Linked DNA regions of Homo sapiens: all the other regions are linked to region 1. The links come from fine-mapping of genetic effects on gene expression. A gene starts in region 1. Each other region holds a variant in brackets. All regions are shown on one strand. Distances are between the middles of the regions.

The links. PIP is the estimated chance that this variant, and not a neighbour inherited with it, causes the effect.
Region 2: its variant is the best candidate, but not a certain one, in a credible set for the expression of DPYD in whole blood (INTERVAL, PIP 0.87).
Region 3: its variant is the best candidate, but not a certain one, in a credible set for the expression of DPYD in whole blood (TOPMed, PIP 0.61).
Region 4: its variant is the best candidate, but not a certain one, in a credible set for the expression of DPYD in esophagus muscle (GTEx, PIP 0.59).

The regions. Positions count from the first base shown.
Region 1 is chr1:97,918,674-97,922,845 of GRCh38, forward strand. DPYD (dihydropyrimidine dehydrogenase) reads right to left here and starts at 2,361. Exons shown (of 23, transcript NM_000110.4): 1 at 2,211-2,361. The coding sequence starts at 2,249. RefSeq lists a silencer at 2,167-2,566.
Region 2 is chr1:97,867,522-97,871,693 of GRCh38, forward strand. The region is part of intron 2 of DPYD (dihydropyrimidine dehydrogenase); the gene reads right to left. Among named protein-coding and RNA genes, the nearest start is that of DPYD, 51 kb to the right of the region's middle. The variant T/C (reference allele first, on the strand shown) is at 2,125.
Region 3 is chr1:97,076,522-97,080,693 of GRCh38, forward strand. DPYD (dihydropyrimidine dehydrogenase) reads right to left here. Exons shown (of 23, transcript NM_000110.4): 23 at 1,222-2,625. The coding sequence ends at 2,455. Among named protein-coding and RNA genes, the nearest start is that of DPYD-AS1, 17 kb to the right of the region's middle. The variant C/T (reference allele first, on the strand shown) is at 1,687.
Region 4 is chr1:97,556,709-97,560,880 of GRCh38, forward strand. The region is part of intron 11 of DPYD (dihydropyrimidine dehydrogenase); the gene reads right to left. Among named protein-coding and RNA genes, the nearest start is that of DPYD-AS2, 240 kb to the right of the region's middle. The variant T/TAGAG (reference allele first, on the strand shown) is at 1,734.

The DNA.
Region 1 (4,172 bases):
TCTTGGCTGTTTCACTGAAACCTGAGGTTCTGTAGTTAGCTCATAGGGAAAAGTCAGTCACTATTAGAGTAGGTTGTTATCATCACCTTCTGTTCTTTTAACAATTGTCAAGTACTTTTCACATTTATCAATGTGTTCTTATCACATTCATTAACTGCTTCATACCAATATTTTTAAAATATTACTTGCTTATCCATGTATTTGAAGCTAAAACAATGATCACAATCAGATCTCTAGACAATGGTTGTAATGAATTTGTTCAAGAAAAGCATTCAAATTTGATGGAAAACTGAGCCTTTATAATTCATTCTAATTCTTCAACACAAAAATGAACTTTGGTAAATCAATAGGATCAACTGAGGCATTTATGCTTGAATGTGCTCCCCTAAGCTTAATGTATTTTTCCTCACTGCATTATATTTTAATGATTAATTTCATGCTCTTTCATGGTATTCTAGCTCATGAATCACGGGTATTACTTTGAGGGAAAAGTAAGGTGCTGTGAGTGATGAAAGATGTTACTGATTAAAGTGTTGCACATATGAACTACATAAGAGCTGAAGGTGTTTGAACACCAGCAATCTAGATTAAAAGTAATATTAGGCAAACTGGCCATATAGACTAAGGTTGAATTGAGTGGAGGGAGTGGGAAGGATGGGCTTCTTAAATGTTCTTAGTTGAAACAATATATGAAATCAAGCTTGGCATTCAATGTTTCACTGGCATCTTTCTCCTCAGTAGAATGTAAGAACTGATTTCGAAGACAACTGCAGAGAAAGAAATCAGTTAAGCAGATAACACACCATTCTGAAATTAAAGAGCCAAAAGCCACCCATCCTAAGTCAACTCCGATATCTTAAATCAATACTGCCTTAATACTGTCAGAAGCTTGTTTTTCGACTTAGTAAATAAAATTTTTTAAAAAGTTAAGTCAAAGTCACAAGGACCAAAAAGGAATAGACTACCCTAAATGAAATATAGAAAAAGACAAGTATCTATTATCCTGCACACAGATGAACAACTATTTGTTAAATATATCATATTGCTCAATATCAAAAAGTCAACTCTCCAAAACAGAAACCAAAAGTAAACTAACCAGAGATGTCCACATAATACACTTTGGCTCTTGTTACTAAAATGATTTTTCAAACCAAGTTATGGAGCCTGGAGAAAACAGGACTACTTCCTCCCAGAATATAAAGTTTCTTCAATTACGGAGGCAAAATGTGGCAAAAGCAGCTATTTTGCAAACAGGTGGTTTGCAAAACTTTTACTTAAGCCGCCAAAAGGACTGACGAAAGGAAAATTTTGTTATTTCTAAAGAAAACACACACACACATAATTTTCTACCAGAGTAGAAGACTCAAATAAAGAAAAGCCCCAAACAAAACAGAAAACTAAAAATCAGTTTGTCTTAGCTCAAAAGTGCTGACCTAGGTTTAGTATGTGTAAAATCACTGTTGATAATTAAATCCTTTTCATCGCATATATTAAGATACTAGAGAGAAAGGAAATGCCATGTCGTTTCAGGTAGGACCTTATTTACATAAAAAAAGATTTTTTTTAACAGAAACGGAGTGCAAGAGGGAATCAAAAACCGTTGAGAGGAGAGAAAAATACAGTTAGTTTTTCTGAGGGCACTGCATTTTTCATGTTCTGAATACTTCGTTCCATTCTCTCCATGTTAAATTATTTCATAAACAATACTATGACTAGAGGCGACTGCTACAGCTGACACACAGATGTTTTATTTCTATGCTTCACCTTTGCAAATAGCAGGATTCAGCTATTGGAAATGGGGGCAGTGGAGGTGTCCAGAAACGACATACAGGAGGTGAAGGGGTAGAACGTGTGGGAAATGGGCACTCCTACCCCCTAGAGTCCACCTCTCTGGAACTCCAGTGCTTCTTCAGTCACTGACATTCAGAGGAGGACAAGACAGGCTTCCTGAAATCTCTTCCGAAGTAAACAGGTCCCGACGCAAAGGGCAACCCCTCCAGTAGCGGAAAGTCCTCCCCTGAGCTCCCCGCCTGCCCACGCGGGCCTGTGGCTCCGCGCTCCTCCGCTCCCCCGCAGAGCTCCCACGGGGGAAACTTTCCCGCGTCTCTCACTCTCCGGGGTGCGGGGGCCGCGGGGGCCTCCCCGGCACCTACCCGCAGAGCACTCCCCACCACCCCGCCACCACCGACGAGCCGGCGCGAAGTCCGTACCTCGATGTCCGCCGAGTCCTTACTGAGCACAGGGGCCATGGCAGTGCCTACAGTCTCGAGTCTGCCAGTGACAAACCCTCCTTGCGTCCTCAAGCTCCAGCCAGAGAGCCAAGTGACAGCAGCCGGAGCGCGAGTCGAAAACAGGCAGACTAGGGCCGGCGGCGCGGGGGCGGAGCGGGCGCGGGGCGGCAACGCCCCCGGGGCGGGGCTGCGCTCTCGGTCCTGCGGCTCCCGCGCCAGGCACGGCAGCCGCAGCCCGGCCTTCCCAGTTCAGCCCGCTCCGCGCCCCAGCCTGCAAGCAGAAGGGAGGGAGGGAGTAGAGCACCCGCTCTGGGGACTGGCCTTTAATCTCTAAACTGCTAAAAACAGAGCTAGGCAGGCGGGGCCAGATAGGAGGGATCCCCAGGCAAAGGTAAAAGCAGTCCGCGCTCCAAGCAACAACTTGCACTTTTTCTTTTCTTCCACAGAAACCCCGCGAGATGTAGATACATTGTTTGAGGGGCAACTGCATTTTCAGGAACTCCTCAAGGATGAAATAGTAGATGTTCCTCCATCCATCCACCAAGTAGGTGGGCGGGGTTTGAGCTGCAGTGGAGGATACCAAAGCACCGGTCTTCTGAGAGTTCACAGCCCCAGCGGGGAGGGGAGGGAGGCGAGCAAAAACATCCACAGCCCGCAGCAGCATACAGGAAGTGCTGCAGGTGGTACATAATCAAGGTTGTCTTTTTGCAGGAAAGTCTCATTTTAATGGTTATTTTTTTAAATATTTTTTATTCTAAAACGTGAAACTCTTTTGAAAAGTTGCTCTTCGTTTTTGCTCTAGAGCTTGCTGAGGAGAAGGGAGAGATTTCCTGTAGAGTTGGTCCCAATCCAGAAAACATTCACCTCGTTTTTTGAGGATATGTGTACTCCAGACCTCTCTCCTTTTCTCCCCGCCCCCCCCCCACCCCTGTTAGATGCATCCCACCTCTCTTCTACCATAACACTTTCTACTTCCGTTAGGACATTTGCGGCACTCCTTCATGCACTTGGCTAGGTAGTGACACCTTGGAGTCAAGTATTTCTCCCTTATTATTTTTTCATTAGTCCATTCATCGTTTTATTCAACGAATATGTTTATTGAGCATTTTCAATATGCCAGACACAGACACTGTGCTAGGTTCTCCGGATATAGTCTTCAAGAATACACATCACTGTCATGGAGATTATACTCAAAATAAGCAAGTAAGAAAATGTGATGCCTGCTTGTAAGATAAAAGAAAAATAGGACAGAATAACTAGGGTATGGGTACCTTGCGTGGTTGAGAAGGCTTCTCTGAACAAACCATCAGATTACCTTCCAGAACCTGGAAATTACTAAAAGACAGATACATTTTTCTTGAATCAAATATTAACAGACACTAGAAAGTTAAATGGAAACCTTAGAATCATCTTTGACTCCTTTATCCTTATTGCCTCATTTAATCTATGCCCAAACTCTCAGAAGTCAACCTCCTAAATAGATTTTGAATCATTCATTTCTCCATTTTGCTGCATCCACCATGGTCCAAGCTACTGGTATTCTAGCTTCTATTCTTACCTCATATCCATACCAGATTGAGCTTTAGAAAGTATTAACTGGCTCATGCCATACAACGATACATCCACACACCCAGGTACCCATGGTATAAATCCTTCAATGGTCCATTGCAGTCAGAATATAATACAAACTCCCTAGTAACCGCTGAATAACCTGCTCTACTCCGCTTCTCCGCCACTCTTGCCCTGACTCATTATGTTCCAACCACAAGGTAATCTTCTCATCCTCCATCCACTTCTCTACCTTTGCACATTGCCCTCCACTTGGAGCTCTTCTTCCCCTTCTACTCATCATTTAGGTCTCACTGAAGCCTTTATGATCTAACCCCATCACCAACAAAATTACACCCACTCTGTCTTTTTCATTATATTTCGTCTTCATAG
Region 2 (4,172 bases), 51 kb before region 1:
CATAATCAAGCATTATTTACCCCCAGGATGCAAGGATGGTTCAACATACACAAATCAATAAGTGTGATATACCACATTAATAGAATAAAGGACAAAAACCATAGGATCATCTCAATTGATGCAGGAAAAAACATTGGACAAAACTGAATATCCTTTCATTATACAAATACTGTAATCATTAGGTGTAGAAAAAATGTACGTGAACACAATAAAAGCCATGTATCACAAGCTCACAACGAACATCATATTCAATGGTGAAGAGCTGAAAGCTTTTCCTCTAAGATCAGGAACGAGACAAGGATACCCACTTTTACCATTTCTATTTTACATAGTACTGAAAGTCTTAGCCAGAGCAATTAGGCAAGAGAAAGAAATAAAAGGCATCCAAAACGTAAAGGAAAAGGTTCAGTTGTGTGTTTGCAGGTGACATGGTCTTATGTATAGAAAACCCGAAAGCCAACACCAAAAATAGTTCAAACTAATAAACAAATTCTGTAAATTTACAAAATACAAAATCAACATACTAAATTCAGTAACATATCTACACATTAACAATAAACCACCCAAAAAAAAAAGAAATCAAGAAAACAATCCCATTTACAAGTAGCTAAAAAATATATAATTAAGAACAAATGTTTCCAAGGAGTTAAACTATTTATATCATGAAAACCATAAATCTTTGAAGAAAACAATTGAAGAAGAGAAACAAAAAGTGTAAAAGTTGTCAGAATCTAAATGGAGTCAACGGCATTAAATACCTTGACAAATGGGGCCACAGTAGGCCATAAAGGAAGGGTTCTCACATACACTCTTGATAACATACTATCTTGATAACAAGAACTATCACAAAAGACTTCAAATGATATCTGTAATTTATTACTAAAAGATAAAATATTATTCGAAGAAATCAAAGCTAAATGATTAATCATCTGAATTACCAATTACCAGTCATTACCAATATTTAGGTAAAACTAAAATATTAATAATAAAAAGTACTACTTAGTGAGCATTTACCATGTGCTAAACTTTGTATTATACCCTTTTAAAATTCCTCAGTTCATTTAACTCTCAAAATAATGTAGTTAGATTACCATAATTATCAAGATTTCTATTTAACAGTGAAAGAAACTAGAGCTAGCTAGTTAAGGTGAAGAATCACACCCAAGATCAAGTTAGTAAATGTAGAGACGATTTCAGTTTGGGCATGTGTCTCTGAGTCAGAGCTGATTATATTATACCCTACTGCCTCACACAACTTAATCGTAATTTTAACATATCCCATAAAAATAAAACACCTCTATCTAGGTCATTAAAACTTGACATATACCACTGTGCTCCTTAGGATTTTTTGGTTGTCTATATCTCAAACATGATTTACATAGTTTAAGCCAATAAAAAGAGTCTATCCAAGAGTATCTCACAAAACACAAAGTTGCAAAACTCTCCCTACACAAAGCCATGAGAAACCTGCGCAGCTTCTTTTTCTATGACTGCCTCTATCTTCTCTCTCCTCAGCCTGGCCTTTTCTGATTTTCAGTACATGTTGCAAGTGGAAAATGGCCACCCTGCAGCACCAAGCTTTCATTTTATTCCTGCTCAAACAGCCCAGAATGAAAAAGAATCTCTTGTCATAGATATCTAGGAGAGAATCTGATTTCCCCAGCCTCGGTCAGTTCTCTCCATCAGATTCAAGTGGCCAGAATGAGGGCCAGAGTTAGGTGGTACAAAGAAAGCTTCAAGGGTCTATGCCAATAAACTTGTGGATTTGTGTGGTAGGTACCTTCAGAAGTATACATCACAGTCAAATTTATCCAGAATTTGTGATAAATATTCCTATCTTCTAGGAAAGAATCCTATAAATAAGAAATATAATAAACAAAGGAAACAATCCAAAGAGGCTGTATGTGAGGGGGTCAGAATGTCACCGCAAAATATGTCACCTTGGTATAAGGACCATTTTGAGCTGAAAGCACTTAAGAAACAACAAACTGCAGAAAGAGCTCTTTGCTCTTTGCTCTCTCCCTATCTGCCTAAAAGCAGACATAAATTTCCTTTTGTGAAGGTGTTCCCCTCCCTTCTTCCATACCAGGAGGAGAACAATCCTTTATCACTGGATACAGAAAG[T/C]TGGCACCAAGATGGATTTGCACAAACAAACCTTGCTAAAATAGCCCTTATCTTCCATTGGTATCCCTCATATATTTATCTTCCCACAATTTATCACCCCTAGAATCCCAAACCCCTTTTCCTTTGTGTTATCACTTCTGCACGATTTATCTCCCTTTATTAAAATGGTATGTAAGCCCCTGGGTTTAACTCCTTCTTTCTGTCTTCATTTCTTTCATGTGAAGGTCTTGTGCACATATAAATTAAAATATGAACATCAAATACAATGTGTATGCATGTTTTCCTGTCAATCTGTCTTCTGTCAGATTAATTCACATGCCCCAGCCACTGAACATAAGAGGTTAAAGGAAAAGGTTTTTCTTCCCCTACATACATTACACATAAATGTAGTATATACAGTTATTGATATTTGGAGCTCCATATTCAAATATTGATGTTGGAATTTTAACTACTGATTCAATTTGCAAATGCTGAATAGATATTAACATTTTTAGGATAAATCACATGAAATATTCTGGGGAATAGGTTAGTAAAATCTAAATAGATATTAGAAATTTGAAAGAAAAGAGAAAATAAAATATTCCATTCTGTCTCACTAATGACTACTGAATCAAAGCATGACCATGCAAATAGGGTATAACACATTTTTTTTGTAATTAAAGCAACTTCAAGATAGGTAACATTAAAAATATCCTGGCTTAATGAAAACAAAAATATGAAATGCAGTTAGGATGTGTGGATCTTTATCGTGTTATATAAAAATACAAATATTTCAAAATTCATAAACTTCAATAACGGAGAGCTATGACAGCAGAGTTCCACATTTTTGTTCATATTCATTTTAAGTGCATGACTGCAGGAAGGCGTTTCTCATGCTATTTCTCTGTGGTCCCTGATATTCAAAGTAGTACATGCAATATTAATGATCTCACTTTTGTGAGTATACAGCATACACCACATTCCCACCTAAAGAAAAGCTCCTCAATTCCTAATCATTTCAATAGGCTCTAATGTAATATTTCCTACATTGGAAATCACAGCACTTTATTTAAGGAAATCAGTTTGGCCAAGTGAGCTCTATGGAGTGCAGCCTGCACAGACGTCAGTTCAAAGGATCAGATGTCAAAGTGCTCCCTCTAATGTCCTTTAATCATCACTCCGATTAGTGCATGAATAGGACTGTGATTAAAAACGCTGCTGCCATTGTCTACCTATTCAGGCCTCTAGCATTTTACGTGGGTTCCACCGATTAGTGTTTGAATAGGGGAACGATTAGAAAGACAGCTGCCATTGTATGCCCATTCGGGAAAACAGCAAAACTCACATATTTATTTGCTATGAGCACCAAATAAATGTTTTGCAAAGGTAAAATATACCATTAGACTCTAAAGACAATTTTGCTGATTTCTTTTGTTCAGAGCACTGTATTTTCCCATATGCAAAGATGTTTCTTATTTGCAAATACAGTAATATGCTTCATTAATATCTTTTAAAATATACATATTTTGTTTTCATAGAAATAGTCTTAACACACATCTGCTTTATTATATACTACTTATTGACCTATAATACATCATACAATTCCAGTTTAATATTTATGATTATGCAAAGATTTTCTGTGTAAACAAATTCAATCTATTTGGTTCCAGATCTTTTGGATCCCTTCTCAATATTCTTGGACTAATACGTAGTCTATAAGAACAACTTCTTCTCCCAAGAGAAATTTCCTTGTCAGACACGGAGAATAAATATTTCACTCTTGGGCCATTCTAAGAGAGGGAACACATTTCAGGTTAGCAGTTAGTAGCCCTGCAGGAGCTCACACAAGAGAGCTTCGGCCAGAGTGGAATTCCCCACGACAATACAAACCTCTATCCTATGATAAAAATTCTCCAAGACCAAGGCATCATGTTGAGGCTTTTTGGAGAAGGGAGAAATACAGGCAAAAAAAAAAAAAAATCACAGAAAAAGAATCCATCCATATGCAAATATAAGACAGTGCTCAAAAAAATTTTTGTGGCTGTTTCTCTCTCTCTTCTTTCTGTTTC
Region 3 (4,172 bases), 840 kb before region 1:
CACCTTCACAGAAACATGGAGAGTAATGCTTGACTAAGTGTCTGGGTACTGCAGCCCAGCTAAGCTGACACATAAAATTAACTATCATATATGTAGAACATTTAGTACAGCTTCTCAGACATTCGTTAGGAAGTGCTCACTAACCACACTCTCTGGTCCGGTCTTATGTCCCCAATCATGTCTGGAGGTAAGGTGCCATGAGAATGTGTGTGTTAGGGTCAATGGCTCCTGGTGTGTTGCTGGATGGGAATAATGTGGTTTTCATTCTTCCTTATTCTGAGTCTCTCTGTAAATAACATATGTAAAATTGAGTTATGTTTTCTACACACAACATGGATAAGAAAGACTTCTTGGTATGAAATAGAAAGTGAATACAACAGAAAGAAATGTGTGTAAGGAAGAAACTAGTATAAAATCATGGATTGCCATGGCCTAACCCTGGTCACTTGTAGTTCTCCACAGTAGTTACAGAAACAGTTAAAGTATTTTGCCCTCTCTTTCTCAGAAAAAAATGCAAAGGTCATGATTATTTCTTTAATCTCGATCAAGGAAATTTCTGCCTGGCATTTGGCATTCAGTATCTTGAAGAGGACTCAGGTGTGTACATACATGGGATATCTTTTATAATATTCCCAGAAGGCTACTAAACTCCCAGAACTCCCAGAGTGAAAAACTCTCATCAGATTCAGGTAGGGGGTAAGACATTATGATGGCATCCACGTAGCCCTGGTAAATCTCTTTTCTAGATTACTGGAACTGTTTTCTAAGTGTTACCAACTCCAAAAGTTAAAATCCCTCACCACGACAAGAGTGCAAAGAGAGTCAATTTATATGAGTCAATAATATCACATAACTATCTAAGCAGTAATATTAAGTGAGGTGTGTACTTCCTACAGTGAGACTGGCACTTTCAGACAGGCAGGCAGGCTGCCACTTTCCATTTGTCCCTGCCCATGGGCCATTGCAAGAATCCTGGCCTGTTCCCAGTAAAAGATGCCTTTTGGCAGAATAGAATCTAATTCAGTAGGTAAAGATGGGTAAGAAGGACAGGAAGTGAAACATTTGAGTGACTGCACTATTATCACCCTTATTTTACTTAAACTAACATGAGTTTTATATCTGGATGGAATGCTCTATAGGACTAACCAAAAACTGCTCTATCTCAAAATCTAAATTGTTTATATGAAATTATATTTGCAAATGAGGCAGCAAAAGACCATATTTAAAATGCTTTATGATATTTTATTTGATATTATTCAGTAATACAGGTTTTGTGGCAAATATGCATTTCTAAAAGTGCATAATGAAACATTTTATTTTTCTAGCTCTTGAATTTGTCATAGAAATAAGCCATAGATTGTTACTTTCTGATTTACTACTTATAGATTCATATTGAAGATGCCATGAAGAGGAGATAAATGAGTTTATATGACACTATTTACTGATTATGAAAATAGAGAAATACAAAAATATTATCTAATAATAACAAAAAATATATTTCTTTTAAACATAAACACTAAAACAGAGAGTAGTCAAACTGATTTGGCACACTTAATATATATTATCAACATTATATTTTTCATTCTTGAATAATGAAGCATTGCATACTTTGAGCTTTGTTCAAACATTAGTTGCTATAATCATGAAGGTGACTATTAAAACCAGTCAGAGCCCGTATGTGCACAG[C/T]AAAAGAGTGGTAACCAGGATCTATCCTATCATCTCATTTTGTTAGGAACATAGTTTAAAGAGAAATGCCATTAAAAGAGGATGAGTTTGTACACCCATCTCACGCATGAGTAGTGAATGGTATTTAGTTAGTAAATATTCTCCCTATCCTCTATCCAACACCAAAAATAAGCAATTTCAGCGAAGGGGATTTTACTTAATAAAGTTCTACAAACTCAATTTTAGGCTTTCTTATCCTGCCATAGCAAATAATTTTTTGACTTTCTTCATTTGTACTTTATGGAGCTAACTACATTTTCTTAGAAACAGCATTAAAATTAAAGGTAATTTTTAATGATAAAATGTTTCCTTGGATACATTTTCTTGTATGTTAAAGAGTACTTTGTTTCAAAATGCTTAATTTCACTTACAATTAGAAATCAAATATGGAGCACAGCATAGGGCAATTTGGAAACTGTCACACTAATTGCCACAAAAAAGTTAATTTTTCACATAAGACAACTGGCAGTGAACATCCAATTAACTGCCACACAGTTATTTAACTACTATCCTCAGAAAAGAATTATTCTATTTTATGACCACTAATTGAATGGTCATTGACATGAGACATTTTTTACACTTACAAATGTATTTTGAAATTACATATTTTTATTTAGAAAATGTATATTTGTTTTAATTTGGAAAGAGCTGAACACAAGGATCATGATTTTAAAAGATCAGCATATGTAGGTGACATGAAAGTTCACAGCAACTGTTTCACAAATCACCTTAACACACCGGATTCACAGATAAGGGTACGCCTCTCTTTGGTTCATAAGGTGTTGTCCTGGAAACCATTTTGATGCAGTCGACAATAGGGCAAACACTGAGACACAGAGTACAGCCTGTACAAGTGTCGGTTATGGTGGGCAGGTGGGTTTCTGGATCAAACTGTATAGCCTGCAAACAGAAATAGAGGGTATTGATGTCACTGACCACAAAGGTCAACAATGTCCCCATTTTAGCGTTAACATTTTTCTCTGCTGCAGAGGAGCCACACTATGAGACAACTACGTCCAGCTCTATGGTGCAACTATAGCAACAGTTGAGCTGACAGAGGAGGAAAAAAAGAGCGAGAAAAGAAATCCTTTTAAATTAAAAACACAATGTTTAAAATTCCTTAGGGGTATTTTTCTTCATTGTGTGAGGAAAATATGTCATAACATAGTCACTCTCTAGTTTTCTTTGTTCTGAGCAGAGTTCGGGTCTTTCCAGTTCTACCAGGATGGGGCGTCTTCTACCTGTGGATTTTGGGGGACTTTCACACGTCCTCCTTTTCCTCTTCACACTCTTTGTTCTTGACAGTGGAAAAGTGTTACTGTCAGATTCTGAGGCAATGAATACATTTGTTTGGATTTCAAATAATGCATGTAGTTTTTAGAAGAAAGCAGAAGAAAAAAATTAGCTTAACAGTCAGCTTTGAGTTTTGAAGATTTCCAAGCTGACTCTAGTCATTGTCCACCACGAAGGGGAAAAACACTGAATGGAGAGCCAGGAAAACTGATGTCCAGTCCTGGCCCTGACACTATTGAGCCCAGATTACCACAGCCAGGCCTCCAGCTCTGAAACGGCTTAGGATTTTGAGAAATTTTACAATTTTCCTTCCCCCGTCTTCCTCTATTCCCTCCCTCCCTTCCTCCCTCCCTTCCTCTCTTTTTCTTTCCATGAAGCAATGTAGAATAAGCAATTAAGAATACCTAGTATGAAATTCAGGACCGAGTTTTTTTTAAAAAAAGATATGATGATTATTTTCCCATTAAAGAGAAACATTTCAATGATGAAAAATGACATGTAAGACCTCAGCGGAAGTTACAGGATTTCTATCTAGGAGGGATTTCAGGGCAGCTACGTAGGGGTGGATCATGGTGTCAGAGGGGATTTAGGAAACTTGCCTGGCAGTCTCACTTGCAAAAAAAATACAAGAGTTTTACTCAGACTGTGTACTACTTTGAAGTGACTAAGTCGGGGCTGAGGAAATTACAAGGGACAATAAGTGTCTCTCCACCCCCATGGTACCCCTTGAGGCCAGGTCTACAAATCTTACATTTTCAAGGAATTGCATTATTTTGATTTTTTTCCTGTCTCATACCAATGTTATAATTCAATTATATATGTGTGTATATATATATATAGTTGTTTAAAAAATTCCCCCCTCCAAATGAAGCTGCATGCAACTATATTTTTTCTCTTTTATGCACATATAAATGAAAATAATATTTTCAGAGTAAATCATGATAGTTGCTTAATATTTTTAAAAAGTCTGATCTGTAAGGAAATAAACATATATTTGAACAAGAACTATAGCTATAGCAAGTCATGAGAATATCTGTCCACACAAATTGGTGCTATGTTTTGTAAAACAACATTTTAAGGTGCTGTTTGGATGAGTAAAAACGATTTATCTTCCTTAGGTACCCTTTTATATAAATGGAAACTCAATGAAGTAA
Region 4 (4,172 bases), 360 kb before region 1:
TATTCCATGGTGTATATGTGCCACATTTTCTTAATCCAGTCTATCATTGTTGGACATTTGGGTTGGTTCCAAGTCTTTGCTATTGTGAATAATGTCGCAATAAACATACATGTGCATGTGTCTTTATAGCAGCATGATTTATAGTCCTTTGGGTATATACCCAGTAATGGGATGGCTGGGTCAAATGGTATTTCCAGTTCTAGATCCCTGAGGAATTGCCACACTGACTTCCACAATGGTTGAACTAGTTTACAGTCCCACCAACAGTGTAAAAGTGTTCCTATTTCTCCACATCCTCTCCAGCACCTGTTGTTTCCTGACTTTTTAATGATTGCCATTCTAACTGGTGTGAGGTGGTATCTCATTGTGGTTTTGATTTGCATTTCTCTGATGGCCAGTGATGATGAGCATTTTTTCATGTGTTTTTTGGCTGCATAAATGTCTTCTTTTGAGAAGTGTCTGTTCATGTCCTTCGCCCACTTTTTGATGGGGCTGTTTGTTTTTTTCTTGTAAATTTGTTTGAGTTCATTGTAGATTCTGGATATTAGCCCTTTGTCAGATGAGTAGGTTGCGAAAATTTTCTATTCCCTTTTTCTTTTCTTTTTTTTTTTTTTTTTTTTGAGGAGTCTCACTCTGCCGCCCAGTCTGGAGTGCAGTGGCATGACCTCCGCTCACTGTAACCTCCACCTACTAGGTTCAAGTGATCAAGTGATTCTCGTGCTTCAGCCTCCCAAGTAGCTGGGATTACAGGCGCTTGTCACCACGCACAGCTAATTTTTGTATTTTTAGTAGGGATGGGGTTTCAGCAGGTTGGCCAGGCTGGTCTCAAACTCCTGACCTCAAGTGATTTACCAGCCTCGGCCTCCCAAAGTGCTGGAATTACAGGCATGAGCCATCGCATCTGGTCCCATTCCCTTCTTCAAAACTAAAAATAGAGCTTACAAATCTTAGTATAATCCATGAATCTTGTTTCCAAATATATCAACATCCAGTCAGTTAACATGTTGTGCCAATCCATCCAATGAAAATTTTATCCTAGTTACTTCTTACATTCCATTAACATCACTGTCAACTAAAGAAGAATGTTAGAAAAAATAATCAATCAGCACTTATGGATCTCTAGTACATGGCAGGCATACTGCTGGATATTTCCATAGAATATCTTATTAGATCACAAAAGAACCCTTGAAGGTGGATATTATCATCCTCAATAAAGCCAAGAGGTGGCAGAGGCAGTATTTGAATCCAATTATTTCATCTCCAAAGTCCTGCTGCTTCTGACTTTGGGTGTGGGGGCAAGAGAAAGCCAGAATAAATAGACTCTCCACAGTCTCATAAAATTCAGCATTGGGGATCATGGGAATAACTAAAGTGAAGACAGGAACAGCAAAGAATTCTAGTCTTGGCTAGCTTCACAGATTCAGCCTTGAGAGCATCCTTTCCAATGAAACCTTTTTCCCCCCCTTTCTAGTGAATTAACCACTAACGACTTTCTGTTACGCTAGGCACTATGTGACTTTATTTCAAGTATTTGTTTTACCTCTACTACTCCTAAGTTCAGATAACTTATTTAAGTCAGCTACTTCCCCCCAGCATCTAGCATATAATTGGCATATAAGGGGAATCTAGTATATGTTTTTTGGTCAAAAAATGTAGTATTTGTCCATTCCATTTATTTAGCATTCATATTATTCTGTCTTAGTTATTTTTCTTGTAGATCTTATTTTCACAAT[T/TAGAG]AGTCAGTTCATCATGTGGAGAAAAAGTATTTCTACACTGACAAACATACTGACTAGGGAAGAATGGGCACATAGTGAATTTCTTTTGATCAATTTAAATATCTGATTTTCCTACTGCTATGGTTAGATAATTTTCAGTTTGAATATGCTAGTAGAATTCAGTCAGGGTAAAATACAGATCTGATCTTCTCCCTCACCCTATTCAGGATAAACTTAGGCTCCCCAAGTTGAATGGAAACGATGGATGTCAATAATAGCCTATAGCAACTCCTTTTGTGTTATTTGTATTCTATTGGAAGTTTCATTTCCACTTCCTAAACTGACCAACAAACCAATTCAGAATTAAAATAGTCCAAGCACTTCACCTTGATCTGCTTATGTCTCTGAAATAATTCTATCTATTTAAGACGCTGAACTCCTTGAACATTGGATTTCATTTTACCTGGAAGAGATCTCCTCCAGGAGGTCAGTGTCCTTGAAGTAAATATATGGGAATTGTTTTCAAATTCTCTGTTGGATTCCCAAATGCTGTACTTTGATTTGCTTATTTATATTCAATGATACCATCTCTTTAAGACTGCAAACTGCTTGAAGGAATAGATCATCCTTTAATCTGGTTTGGACCATAATCATTATAATTCTATGCACATTTGGGTGCTTAATATTTCTTGATAATTATGAGATAGTGAAAAAATAGCGTATTGAAATATTTTTTGTATACTTCTCAGCAAACAAAATTTTTTAAATGCTCAATTATGTCATCAAATGATATAAACAATTACTGAAAGGGGTTAAGAAAAATGTTTCATATAAAATTCCCATTTGCTGCATTTAACGGAAAAATAAAAACAAATAGGAAACCAGTAGTAAATTATACTACTTGTGAAAACAATATTATTAAAATATAAGTGAACACTGAAAAATATTTTAATTAACAAAATAAATCAAATGGAAAAGATTCCCTAAATAGAGCTTTAAAAGTAAGTCTATGTGTGTCTGACTGCCATGACTAATTATGTATCCATGTAATGTGTGTTCAATTTGGGCTTATTTAAATAGCAGAAATGCTCATTAGCTGCAGTATATCTGTGAAGCTTCAGTAAACAGTTTAATGGTTTTTATGTTTAACCAATTTCATAAGTTCCTGTAATTTTAGCTTTAGCAGCTCATTAATGTTATTTTTTGATATCCATCTTACGGCTTTTTTTTTTCCTTGTCAATCGTCAGTAGGCACACTTCAATGCAAACTTAAAACACACAGTAGAATTTTGTTTAAACAATTTTAGTACATAAGTAAATGTGCAATTCAAAAGTATAGTTTCTTTATATAGAGAACTAGCTGTATTATCATGCACTCAAAAAATATCAACATTGGCAAAGGCTATATCTAATGGGGATAAAACTATAATAATGGAAAACATTTATTGAGCGCTTTCATCAGCATGTAGCTGGCTCTAGGCTAGGCACTGTATATACTATCTCTTTGGATCCTCACAAAATAGGTATAACTCAATTTTATAGTTGAGGAATGTGAGATTGAGATAAGTTACCAAGGTCACACCCTTAGGATTTAAACCTCACTAGAAATTAACTACATATGTAGTTGGAAAATGCCTGAAAAATCCACAGAAGCATTTGGAGATACACACCTAGACCTCAGATGAAGGCACTGCAACTTGGGATCAAATAAATCACAAGGCTGGGTAAAGTTTCCAAAGAAAGAGTGCAAAAACAGGTGACAATAGAATCATCCACTTATTTTTAAAGTGTCAGCAAGCATAACCTGAACTAAAGCTAGAGAATAATTCCTCAGAGTTACGTGAGAATCAAAATATTTCTAAGCCACAAAAGCCAAGTAAAGAGGTAAATTCAACAAGTATTAAATACAAAAGAAATATAATGTAGGTAAATAGATTGATGACGTGGAGGTCAATGAACCGTAAAAAGGTGACACTTGCAGTTAAATAGTAAAGGCAAAAAACAGAATTCTGAAGTTATGGACAAAGTATCTGGCAAAGACATAAGACAGTGTACACAAGCTATTCTTCCCAGGTGTTTCATAATTTTTAATAGGAAAAAAAGCAAGGCATTACCTTGCCTTCATTCATTCAATTAGCAAAAAAAAAAAAAAAAAATTGTTTTTGGTCTCTCATGTATTACATCCTGCTGCAGGCACCGTAGTAAACCACAGATAAGAGACCCATCCTTGTGTGTTGTAAATTTCATCTGGCAGAAGATAAAAAATGAAAAGTAAATAAGTAAGTGAACTATATGATAGTGAAAATGGTTATGAATAGGGTTACATGAAAGAGACTAGTACAAGATGAGGGATGTGAGAAGCAGAAGGGGTGCTTTAGATCATAGCAATTATGGAGGGTCAGAGAGCGCCTCTTTGATGAGATGCCATCAGAGCTAAAACATAAAGGATAAGAATGAACC